Linked DNA regions of Homo sapiens. The protein of the gene in region 1 purifies or fractionates together with the protein of each later gene. This does not show direct contact. Each region holds a gene or a part of one and is shown on either strand. Other genes may lie near its edges. The genes, in order: GLI4, YJU2B and PTCD1.

Region 1 (3,642 bases):
GACTCCCCTGCCCAGAAGCAGTGTTCCGGCAGCTCTGAAGAGGGCCCGGCAGGCCCAGCCGTACCAGCCCACACCTGTCAAGACCTGAACACCCTGGGCCCCCACACCCCAGGGCAAGGGGCTGGTGCAGAGGAAGCCCGGGCCACTGCTGCCCAGCAGGCCCCCCACTGAATGGAGGCAGCAGAGCTGACAGGGCACGTGGGGAAGCCTGCTGCATTTACAGAAGCAGAGGCCTCCCAAATACATAAGGGAACCGAGTTGCCAGAGACCCCTCACCCAGGTGGCAGACAGGCAGCCTGGCCAGGCCTGTGAGCACTTCTAGACTGGCCCCGTCCTCGACCCCTGCTCTGGGCGCGCCCCCCCCGCCTCCCGTGTTGATGGTGGGGTATCAGCTTTGGGCAAGTCAGGACACCTCCAGGCCTCAGATCCTCCCCTACGACACTCGGGCCGCCCGCCAGACCCCAGGGACCCCGTGGCCCTGTATGGCAGGTCTTGGTGGAGCAGCCCCATCACCCCCATCCCGCAGCGGGTCCTCGGGGACAGGAAGCTGCCCCAAGGTCTCACCCAGGCAGGTGCCGGCTCCCACTTCCAACAATCAAAAAGAATTTATTCCGGACACGTGGCATGCGGTGCTGGGCAGTGCCCACCGTGGGGGACGGGGTGGAGGGTGGGTTGGGGGCAGGTAGGAGGCCGAGCCCCGAGCCCCCGCCCGGCTACTCGCGGTAGTGCACCCGCTGGTGCTGGATGAGCTGGGAGCTCTGGCCGAAGGCCTTGCCGCAGGCGCCACACGCGAAGGGCTTCTCGCCCGTGTGGGTCCGCAGGTGCCGGAAGAAGTGCGAGCGGCCGCGGAAGGCTTTGCCGCAGTCGGAGCACTCGTAGGGCTTCTCGCCAGTGTGGATGCGCTGGTGCTCGATGAGCACGGAGCTCCAGATGAAGGCCTTGCCGCACTGGCTGCAGGCGTAGGGCTTCTCACCCGTGTGCAGCCGCTGGTGGCGCACCAGGTTGGAGCTCTGGCTGAAGGCCTGGCCGCACTCGCCGCACTTGTAGGGCTTCTCGCCGTTGTGGATGCGCAGGTGCTGCGTGAAGTGCGAGCTGTGGCTGAAGGCGCGGCCGCACTGGCCGCACTCGTAGGGCTTCTCGCCCGTGTGGATGCGGTGGTGCTGGATGAAGCCCGACCAGCCGCGGAAGCGCTTGCCGCACTCGTGGCAGGCGTAGGGCTTCTCGCCCGTGTGGATGCGCTGGTGCTTCAGGAGCAGCGAGTTATACTTGAAACTCTTGCCGCAGGCCTCGCACCTGTGCGGCTTGGCCCCCCGCGCGCTGCCCTGCCGGCTCCGACCGAAGTTGACTCCCAGCTCGGCAGCCCGCTCGGGCGCACCCTCGGGCCCGGCCGCTGCTTGCTGCACGAGCGTCACGCGCCAGGCGCCCCGCGGCTGGGCGCAAGGGACGGCCCCAGGCGGCTGGCCCGCCGGCCGCTCCGCGCTGGATTCAGGCCCGAAGCCGGCGCTGCACCGGGCCCTGCGGGGAAGGCTCCTCAGGAGGCTGCGCAGCGCCCCGCCCGCCCCCTCGTCAGGGGCCTGAGAGCCAGGAGAGCGTGGAGCCTGCTCCGGCTTGGGCTCGGAGTCTGAAATGAGAAACGGCAGAGGCGGATAGTACCCGCATGCCCCCACCGTGGCACGGAGGGACGGGGACGGGGAGTGAGAGCAGAGCTGGACGGGGGGGCTTAGAGGGGACAAGGAGGGGCCAGGCACCCAGTGGATGGGAGACAAGCGGACAGGGGCTCGGAGTGCCGTGCCCAGGAGAGCTGACATAGACACAGGGGTGGGGGGCGTTGCAGGGTGACCCAGAGCTGCTGGGACCATCCACAGTCACCACGGCGGCCGTGCCGGTGCACGGAGCCACAGTGGCAAGACAGACCATGGGGTCACCCTTAGCCAGGAGGAAGCACTAAGTGTTGGTGAGGACCCGGAGCCTGGGGGACGCCAGAGCTCCAGAGGGCGCCTCAAAGCCCTTGCCGAGGATGTGGTCCATATGGGCACAGCTCCTCATGGGGCTGCCCCAGGCCTCGGTGGCAAGTGTGCTGCCGCCCAGCTCCCATGCCCACCCCAGGAGCTTCCCACGCAAATCTCTGGCCCAGGGTCTCTTTCCAGGGACCTGACCTCAGACACCTGCTCCCCACCCCAGGGCCGCCCAGATGTGGGCGAGGGCTCAGCACTGTTAAATCCAGCCATATCACTAACATCGCCCAGAGGGAACCCTGGGAGCTTCTCAAGGGGGAGGTGCAGGGGACCTGGACACAGCTCCAACCAGGCTGAGGGGAGGCCATCTAGGGGATGCAGGAGGAGGAGGGGACACAGGATAACTCGTGGATCTGGGGGGACAGTGGTGCCCTGAGCCAGAAGCCCCAGCCCAAGGCAGGTGGAGGGGAGGGAGGAGTTCCTGATTCACTGTGTCCAGCTGGGGCCGGCAGGAGTCCACGTGGGGCCACTGGCGCAGGTGGCTGTGGGCTGCAGTCACCGCCTCGGGAAGCATCAGTAACTGGACTGGCATTAGAGTGGGGGAGGGGCCACGGGGCAGAGGTGAGCTGATGCCAGGGAAGAAAAGGGGCCCCAGGAAGGGGGTGGTGCCAGCATTGGGGGTGCCACAGAGGTGGGCATTGTGAGGAGCCTGGCACGCGCAGAGCTCTGGTCCCCCAGTAACCCGATTCTGCTCACTCACCGGGCCAGAAGGTGTCTCTGCCGATCTCCACTTCCTCTACGTCTTGGAGATCCAGGTCGGACGGCTGGGAGAGCACCTTAGGGCTGGAGCCAGGGGAGCCTGGGGGTCAGGGAGGCTGGGGCTCACCTCCACCCTCTGGACCACTGCCTCCGCTCCTCTCTGACCGCCACGTGCTCCCGGGCTGTGGCCCTGACACAGGACACCTCCTGGCCCTCCCAATCCCAACAGCAGGCCCGCTGCTTGGGCTTCTCTAGCCACGAATGCCCTTTACCTTCCTTCCCAGCTCGGTTCAAGAGCCTCCTCCTCCAGGGGCCAGCATTGGGAGCTCATTCCCCTTCAGCCCAGTAAGCAGAGCCAAAACCTGGGGGAGCTTTGAAGCGGCCCTCCTGCCGTTGAAGGCGGCTTTGTCACCTTGGTGGGCTGTGGCCCACCCTCCTCCATGCCCCAGCATCCTGCAGTGCTGCTCTGGACCGGCCTCTCAAAGTGCTGGCCCTGCAGGCTCCCACACCCGTACCTCACAAAGCCTTCCTGCCTTGGCCCCAGACCTTTCTGTCCCTCCGGGGCTCTCTGCTGTCCTTGACGAGCGCCCAGAAACAGCAGAGGCAGCTGCTTCCAGCAGGCCCAGCGCACTGGCCCCTGGCTTCCTCAGGCAGAGCCTGAGGAATGGGCTGGGCCCATCTATGAGCCCCTCACCCCTGGGCACACCAGGCTTGGGCACCCAGGACCAAGACCCCCCTCCCACCCAAGACTTGGTGGGGGCAGGGTGGGGGGATGGCCTTAATGCTCAAGGAGCACAGACTGAAAAGGGAGGGGCGTGGGCTCCACTGCCCGAGGCCAGTGGTCAGCTCTCCTCACGCCAGCAGGGGCACCAGGCCCCTTTGGGGGTCTCACCTGTCTCCTCAGTGCTGTGCCACCTTGGTGCCTCAC
Region 2 (3,095 bases), on another chromosome or scaffold:
GTGAGCCGGGATCATGCCACTGCACTGCAGCATGGGCGACGAGCGAGACTCAGTCTAAGCAAAAACAAAACACAAAAAACCCAACATTAGCCAGGTGTGATGGCTCATGCCTGTGGGTCCCAGCTACTTGGGAGGCTTAGTGGGGAGGATTGCTTGAACCTGGGACATCGAGGCTGCAGTGAGACATGATTTGCCGCTGTACTCCAGCCTGGGCAACAGAGTGAGACCCAGTCACAAAAAGAAAAAAAATAAATAAATAAAAGGAGGCAACCAGGTAGGTATCTCCCATGGCATGGTGAGGTAGGGGTGAGCTATGGTCTCAATGTCTGTGTCCCCCAAATTGATATGTTGAAGCTTAATCCTCAACGTTGACAGTGTTAAAAGATGTGAGGCATTTGGGGAAGTAATTAAGTCAGAAGGGCTACGTCCTCACCAATGAGATTATTGGACTTATAAAAGGAGGCTCAAGGGAACTTGTTTGTCCCTTCTGCCACATGAGGACACAGCTAGAAGCCACCGCCTATGAGAAATGGGCCCTCACCAGACACTGGATCTGCCAGCGCCTTGATCCTGGACTTCGCAGACTCCAGAACCATGAGAAATAAAATTCTATTGTTTATTTTGGCTGGTCTCGGTGGCTCACGCCTGTAATCCCAGCACTTTGGGTAGGCCACGGTGGATCACTTGAGGTTGGGAGTTCGAGACCAGCCTGGCCAACATGGTGAAACCCCGCCTCTACTAAAAATACACAAATTGGCCAGGTGCGGTGGCTCACGCCTGTGATCCCAGCACTTTAGGAGGCCGAGGCAGGCAGATAACCTGAGGATGGGAGTTTGAGACCTGCCTGACCAACATGGAGAAACCCCGTCTCTACTAAGAATACTAGCTGTGCGTGATGGTGCATGCCTATAATCCCAGCTACTCAGGAGGCTGAGGCAGGAGAATCACTTGAACCCGGGAGGCAGAAGTTGCGGTGACCCAAGATCATGCCATTGCACTCCAGCCTGGGCAATAAGAGTGAAACTCAGTCTCAAAAAAAAAAAAAAAAATTAGCCAGGCGTGGTGGTGGTGGGTACCTATAATTCCTGCTACTCTGGAGGCTGAGGCAGGAGGATTGCTTGAACCCAGGAGGCAGAGGTGCAGTGAGCCAAGATTGCGCCACTGCACTCTAGCCTGGATGACAGAGCGAGATGACTACTGTCTCAAAACAAAAAAAAAATTAATTTCTATTATTTATTTATTTAGAGATGCTGGGGGAGGGGGGGGGTGGTGTCTCACTATGTTGCCCAGGCTGATCTTGAACTCCTGGCCTCAAGCGATCCTCCCAATGTGCTGGATTACAGGCGTGAGTCACTGTGCCCAGCCAAATTTCTACTGTTTCTGTCTATGGTATTTTTTATTATAGTAGCCAGAATGGATTAAGACAGGGCATGGTCACCATGTAGCAGATGGGGAAACTGAGGCTCAGAGGGTACAGTGGCCTGCTCAAAGCTAGGATGTGGTGGGGGGAGGGCTGGACCCGGGCCTTGGTCCACCATGCATCCTCTCTGACCCCGGGCTGGAGCCCCCCTCACCCGGAACCTTCTCCGCAGCATGCTGTTGAGGGCGAAGTCGTCCTTCCAGGCGCTCTGGGCCTCCTGGATGTGGCTCAGTGTGGGCAGCGCCTTCTTGAGTGTGCTGCGGTCGGCCTCGCCATGCTCCAGCCGGAACATGGCGTCCGTCTCCAGCTTCTGCTTCTTCTCATGCTCTGCAACGATCAGAGCTCGGCTGGGCTTTGGGGGCCCCAGCGCAGACTCAGGGCCAGGGCCCCCAGGCAGGTAAGTGGGTGGCGCTCACCTGTGGTCAGCACCTGCTCATTGTCCGCCATGTCCCAGCGCTCCTCCTTGCGCTGGGCGCCACTCACGATCACGTAGTCGCAGTTGGCGGGGTCCGTCTGCATCTCGATGTAGTTGACACAGAGGTGGCATTTCATCCGGAACCTGGGAGGGAGCGGTGGGCAGGAGTCAGGAGGCTGTGGCTGTGCACCAGGACAGCCCTGTCGCCTCTGCCTGCTTCCTTCCACCCAATGGTGTCATTTGACAAAAATTCACTGAGCACCCACTGTGTGCCGTGTAGAGCCACGGGCAAAAAGGGGCACATCCGGGCACCCAGAACGGACCTTCTGTCAGTGGGGCTGCAGTTGGCTTATTCATTTGTTCATTCAGCTGTTTGTTCATTCATTCATTCCCTCATCCATTTTTTTGGTTCATTTATTCGTTAATTCATTTGTTCATTCATTAGTGCATTTGTTTGTTGGTTCACTGATTCATTTGTTAAAGTAATTCATACATTCATTTGCTCATCCATCCATTTGTTAATTCACTTATCATTTGTTCATTCTGTTCATTCATTTGTTCATTCATTTGTCCACTAGTTCATTTATTCAACAAACCCGCCCAAGACAGGCTGCTCTGTGGCAGGCTCAGTGCCAGCTGCTGGGGAAATTGCTGAGTAGTGGAAAAGCCAACTTGCTCATGGAAAGGCTGACGTCCCAGCAGGGCCCACCTTGATAGCAAGGGCACAAGCAACCAGTGTCAAGTCTCACTTTAGAAAAGGTGTCTCTGAGGGGTGCTGTTTGAGCAGAAACCCCGGGTGAGGGAGGAGCCTTGGAGCTACCTGGGGAAGAGCATTCCAGGTGGAAGCACAGAGGTGGGTGTGTCCCTGGGGTGTGTGAGGGACAACGAGGAGGCCAGGGAGGGGGACAGCAGGAGGAGGTTAGGGTGAAGAAAGGACAGGCAGAGTGTGTGGTGCCTTGTGAGCCAGGGGGAGGACTTGGGCTTTTACTGAGGAAGGTGGGAGCCATGGAGGGTTGCGGGGGTGGGGTGTGCCCTGATTCACCAACCAGGGCGATTTCCAGGAGTCCTGCAGGGAATGGGTTCCCCCCGCAACTCAGGCTCTTTGTAGCCCCCTCGCCCTGTGGCCACCCCACCTGTTCCCAAGATGCCACCAAGCCGCCCTTACCTGTAGATCGGGGTTGTGTAGTAATTGCCCACCTTCTTCTTTTCTGCATTGTAACGAACACCTGGAAGGGGGTCAGGCGGGGGTGGTAATTTCAT
Region 3 (3,648 bases), on another chromosome or scaffold:
TGAATGAATGAATGAATGACTCCTGGGTTGCACCTGCAGAAGTGCTAATGGGGGTGTGGGAGGGTTGAACAAGTCCCCAGGTGAGTGTGTGGCAGGCTTTCAAGGAAGGTGAGTTTAGAGGGGCTAAGCCGACTGCAAAGCAGGGTGGGAGGGGCGGGGGCCACCCTCATTCCATCTCCAAGGGCCTCCTCTCCCTGCCATCTGTAGAATGGAGGCTACAGTGGCTGCTGGGTTTTCAGAAAAGAGCACAGATATAAAAATACTCAGCACAGGGCCATCGTGGGTGCTCACAGGATCACCATTTTGCACCTCTGGCACCGGGGAAGCAGGGCAGGAAGGTGGGGTGGGAGGGACATACCTGGAGGGCGTACCGGAAGCCTGTCTTCTTGTCTTGGATGCAGCCCATGAGCAGGAAACTGAAGGTCTCCTCTGTGACCACGTGCCCTTTGTGGATGATTTCCTGGGGGAGGGAACAAAGACGTCCCACTGAGAACCTGCAGCAGGCTGGGCATGGTAGCTCATGTCTGTAATCCTGGCACATTGGGAGGCCAAGGCAGGATGATCACTTGAGGCCAGGAGTTTTGTGACCAGCCTGGGCAACATAGCAAGACCCTGTCTCTAGGAAGCCTTCCCTCGAGTGCACAAAGCAGGACACAGCACACGGTGGCATACACAATCTCCAGTAAGGTCTCATCAGATCCATCTGTGAACCCCAGGGCCCAATACCGGCTGTCTCATCCTCCCTAAGCCTTCCTACATGAGGAGAGACAGACACCACAGCCCTGCCCCTGACACGTGGGACCAGCCCCATGAAGGGGAGCAGGACGGCAGGGGAAGCCCCACCTTGAACACATCGAGGCACATCCTAAGGTCTGCGCACTTGGCAGCCATCTTCAGCAGCGCGTGGTATGTTTTCAAGTTGAGCTCGAAGTTTTTGGCCTGCAGCTGCTGCCGGAGCTTCAGGGCGCTCTGTAGAGCTGAGTCCTTCCAGGGGGACTCGGCACAGACGTTGAACAGGGCCGTGTAGGTGGCGTCCGAGGGCTCCAGGTCCCGCTTTTTCATCTGTGGAGATGGAAGAAGCTCAGTGGTGGCCCGGGATCAGCTGGACGCACAGGTGAGCAGCTGCCCCAGAGGAGGCTGAGGCTGGAGAGGACCCCGTCACTGCATCCACCAGGCCAGGCTCTAAGGCAGAGCCATGGACACATCAGAGCCCAGCTCTCCAAACTCAGACACATTGAAGGGACTCTGAAAACTGAGCCCACACACCCAGATGTACCAAACAGGAGCTACCCTGCCCTGGGCACTTGTCAGCCCACTCCAGGCCTGGGGTCCTGGCAGCAAGGTCTTCCTGATGTCCCCACCTTCAGGCCACCCCGTCAAGGGGAAAGGGCCTGTAGTGCTTACTACCTGAGGGCTCCCGGGCAAGTTAGCACTTCCTCGCGAAAATGGGGATGACACCATCACCTTGAAACCAGGCATGCCTGTGGCAAGTGGGAGGATGCACTGCAGTGCTCTAGGGGTGGCCCCGAACCAGTGGCACAATGCACATTCTCAGGGCCACCTGATCTGGTAAGTCACAAGCCCCGGAGCTGAGTGACACTCAGCTTACTGAGCCTCCAGGGGACTAAGGCATGTGCTCAGGGTTGACAATCCGTGGTGAAGCCTAGCACTCGCTATTGGCCAGAGAAGGGCCATCTGGACAAAGGCAGGCGATAGGCAGCTCAGCGGCAGAAAGAACCCTGCTAGAGTCAGGCCATCTGGGGCTCAAATCCCAGCCCCGGTGCATTCAAGTGGGGTGGCCTTGGACATGTCCCTTCATCTCTCTGTGCCTCAGTTTCCTTATCTGAAAAGCAAAGAGGGCAGTCCCTACTTTGAGGATGATGTAAGCTCTGCGTGTATTGCTGCACTCCACAGAGGTGCACTGACAACTCACTACCTGCCCAGCAGCAGCCCTGGGGTTAGCAGAGCGGGCACAGCCTATCCTTACTGAGCTTACACTCAAGAAGGGAGACACACTGCAGGTGAGTCACCAAAAACAGTAACAAGGCTGGGTGCCGTGGCTCACGCCTATAATCCCAGCACTTTGGAAGGCTGAGGTGGGCAGATCACCTGAGGTCAGGAGTTCGAGACCAGCCTGGCCAACATGGCGAAACCCCGTCTTCTACAAAAAACACAAAAAAATTAGCCAGGCATGGTGGTGGGCGCCTTTAATCCCAGCTACTCGGGAGGCTGAGGCAGGAGAATTGCTTGAACCTGGGAGGTGGAGGTTGCATTGAGCCGAGGTCGCACCACTGCACTCCAGCCAGGGTGACAGAGCCAAAACTCCCGTCTCAAAAAAATAAATAAATAAAATAAAATAAATAAAAACAATAAAAATATTAGTTTTTTTTCTTTTTTTTTGAGATGGAGTCTTACTCTGTCGCCAGGCTAGAGTGCAGTGGCGTGATCTCGGCTCACTACGACCTCCCTCCACTTCCTGGGTTCAAGTGATTCCCTTGCCTCAGCCTCCTGAGTAGCTGGGACTACAGGTACGTGCCACCACGCCCAGCTAAATTTTGTATTTTTAGTAGAGACAGGGTTTCACCATGTTGGCCAGGATGGTCTCAATCTCTTGACCTCGTGATCCGCCCACTTTGGGCTCCCAAAATGGTGGGATTACAGGTGTGAGCCACCGCACCTGGCCAAAAATAATAGTTTTTTAAAATAGATGTAATGGGCTGGGTGCGGTGGCTCACGCCTGTAATTCTAGCACTTTGGGAGGCCAAGGCGGGTGGACCACTTGAGGTCAAGAGACCAGCCTGGCCAACATGGTGAAATGCTGTCTCTACTAAAAATACAAACAAAATGAGCCAGGCATGGTGGCATGTGCGCCTGTAGTCCCAGCTACTCGGGAGGCTGAGGTATGAGAACTGCTCGAGCCCAGGAGGCGGAGGTTCCAGTGAGCCGAGGTCGCACCACTGCACTCCAGCCTGGGCGACAGAGCGAGACTCTGTCTCCAAAAAAAAAGGACTGTAGGAAAAAGAAAGAGAGATCAGACTGTTACTGTGTCTATGTAGAAAGAAGTAGACACAAGAAACTCCATTTTGTTCTGTACTAAGAGAAATTCTTCTGCCTTGAGATGCTGTTAAACTGTAACCCTAGCCCCAACCCTGTGCTTGCAGAGACATGAGCTGTGTTGACTCAAGGTTTAATGGATTTAGGGCTGTGCAGGGTGTGCTTTGTTAAAAAAGTGCTTGAAGGCAGTAGGCTTGATAAAAGTCATCGCCATTCTCCAATCTCGAGTACCCAGGGACACAATACACTGCGGAAGGCCGCAGGGACCTCTGCCCAGGAAAGCCAGGTATTGTCCAAGGTTTCTCCCCATGTGATAGCCTGAGATATGGCCTCGTGGGAAGGGAAAGACCTGACTGTCTCCCAGCCTGTCCCCCAGCCCGACGCCCATAAAGGGTCTGTGCTGAGGAGGGTTAGTGAAAGAGGAAGGCCTCTTTGCAGTTGAGATAAGAGGAAGGCATCTGTCTCCTGCTCGTCCCTGGGAATGGAATGTCTTGGGTGTAAAACCAGATTGTGTGTTCTATTTACTGAGATAGGCGAAAACCGCCTCAGGGCTGGAGGTGGGACCTGCTGGAGACAATACTGCTCTTTGATGCA

The links.
Region 2: the proteins of GLI4 (region 1) and YJU2B purify together in Homo sapiens (co-immunoprecipitation; one large-scale study listed by IntAct). This does not show direct contact.
Region 3: the proteins of GLI4 (region 1) and PTCD1 purify together in Homo sapiens (affinity purification with mass spectrometry; one large-scale study listed by BioGRID and IntAct). This does not show direct contact.

The regions. Positions count from the first base shown.
Region 1 is NC_000008.11:143,273,876-143,277,517, reverse strand, and holds the end of GLI4 (zinc finger protein GLI4), read right to left. Parts: intron 2,815-3,642; coding exon 2,716-2,814; intron 1,622-2,715; coding exon 714-1,621; 3' UTR 587-713; downstream 1-586.
Region 2 is NC_000019.10:13,757,752-13,760,846, reverse strand, and holds part of YJU2B (probable splicing factor YJU2B), read right to left. Parts: intron 3,062-3,095; coding exon 3,001-3,061; intron 1,980-3,000; coding exon 1,837-1,979; exon of another isoform or gene 1,748-1,836; coding exon 1,575-1,747; intron 1-1,574. UniProt on the Homo sapiens protein: May be involved in mRNA splicing.
Region 3 is NC_000007.14:99,428,745-99,432,392, forward strand, and holds part of PTCD1 (pentatricopeptide repeat-containing protein 1, mitochondrial), read right to left. Parts: intron 1,063-3,648; coding exon 844-1,062; intron 461-843; coding exon 359-460; intron 1-358. Other genes in the region: ATP5MF-PTCD1 (ATP5J2-PTCD1 fusion protein), read right to left, coding at 359-460, 844-1,062. UniProt on the Homo sapiens protein: Mitochondrial protein implicated in negative regulation of leucine tRNA levels, as well as negative regulation of mitochondria-encoded proteins and COX activity. Also affects the 3'-processing of mitochondrial tRNAs.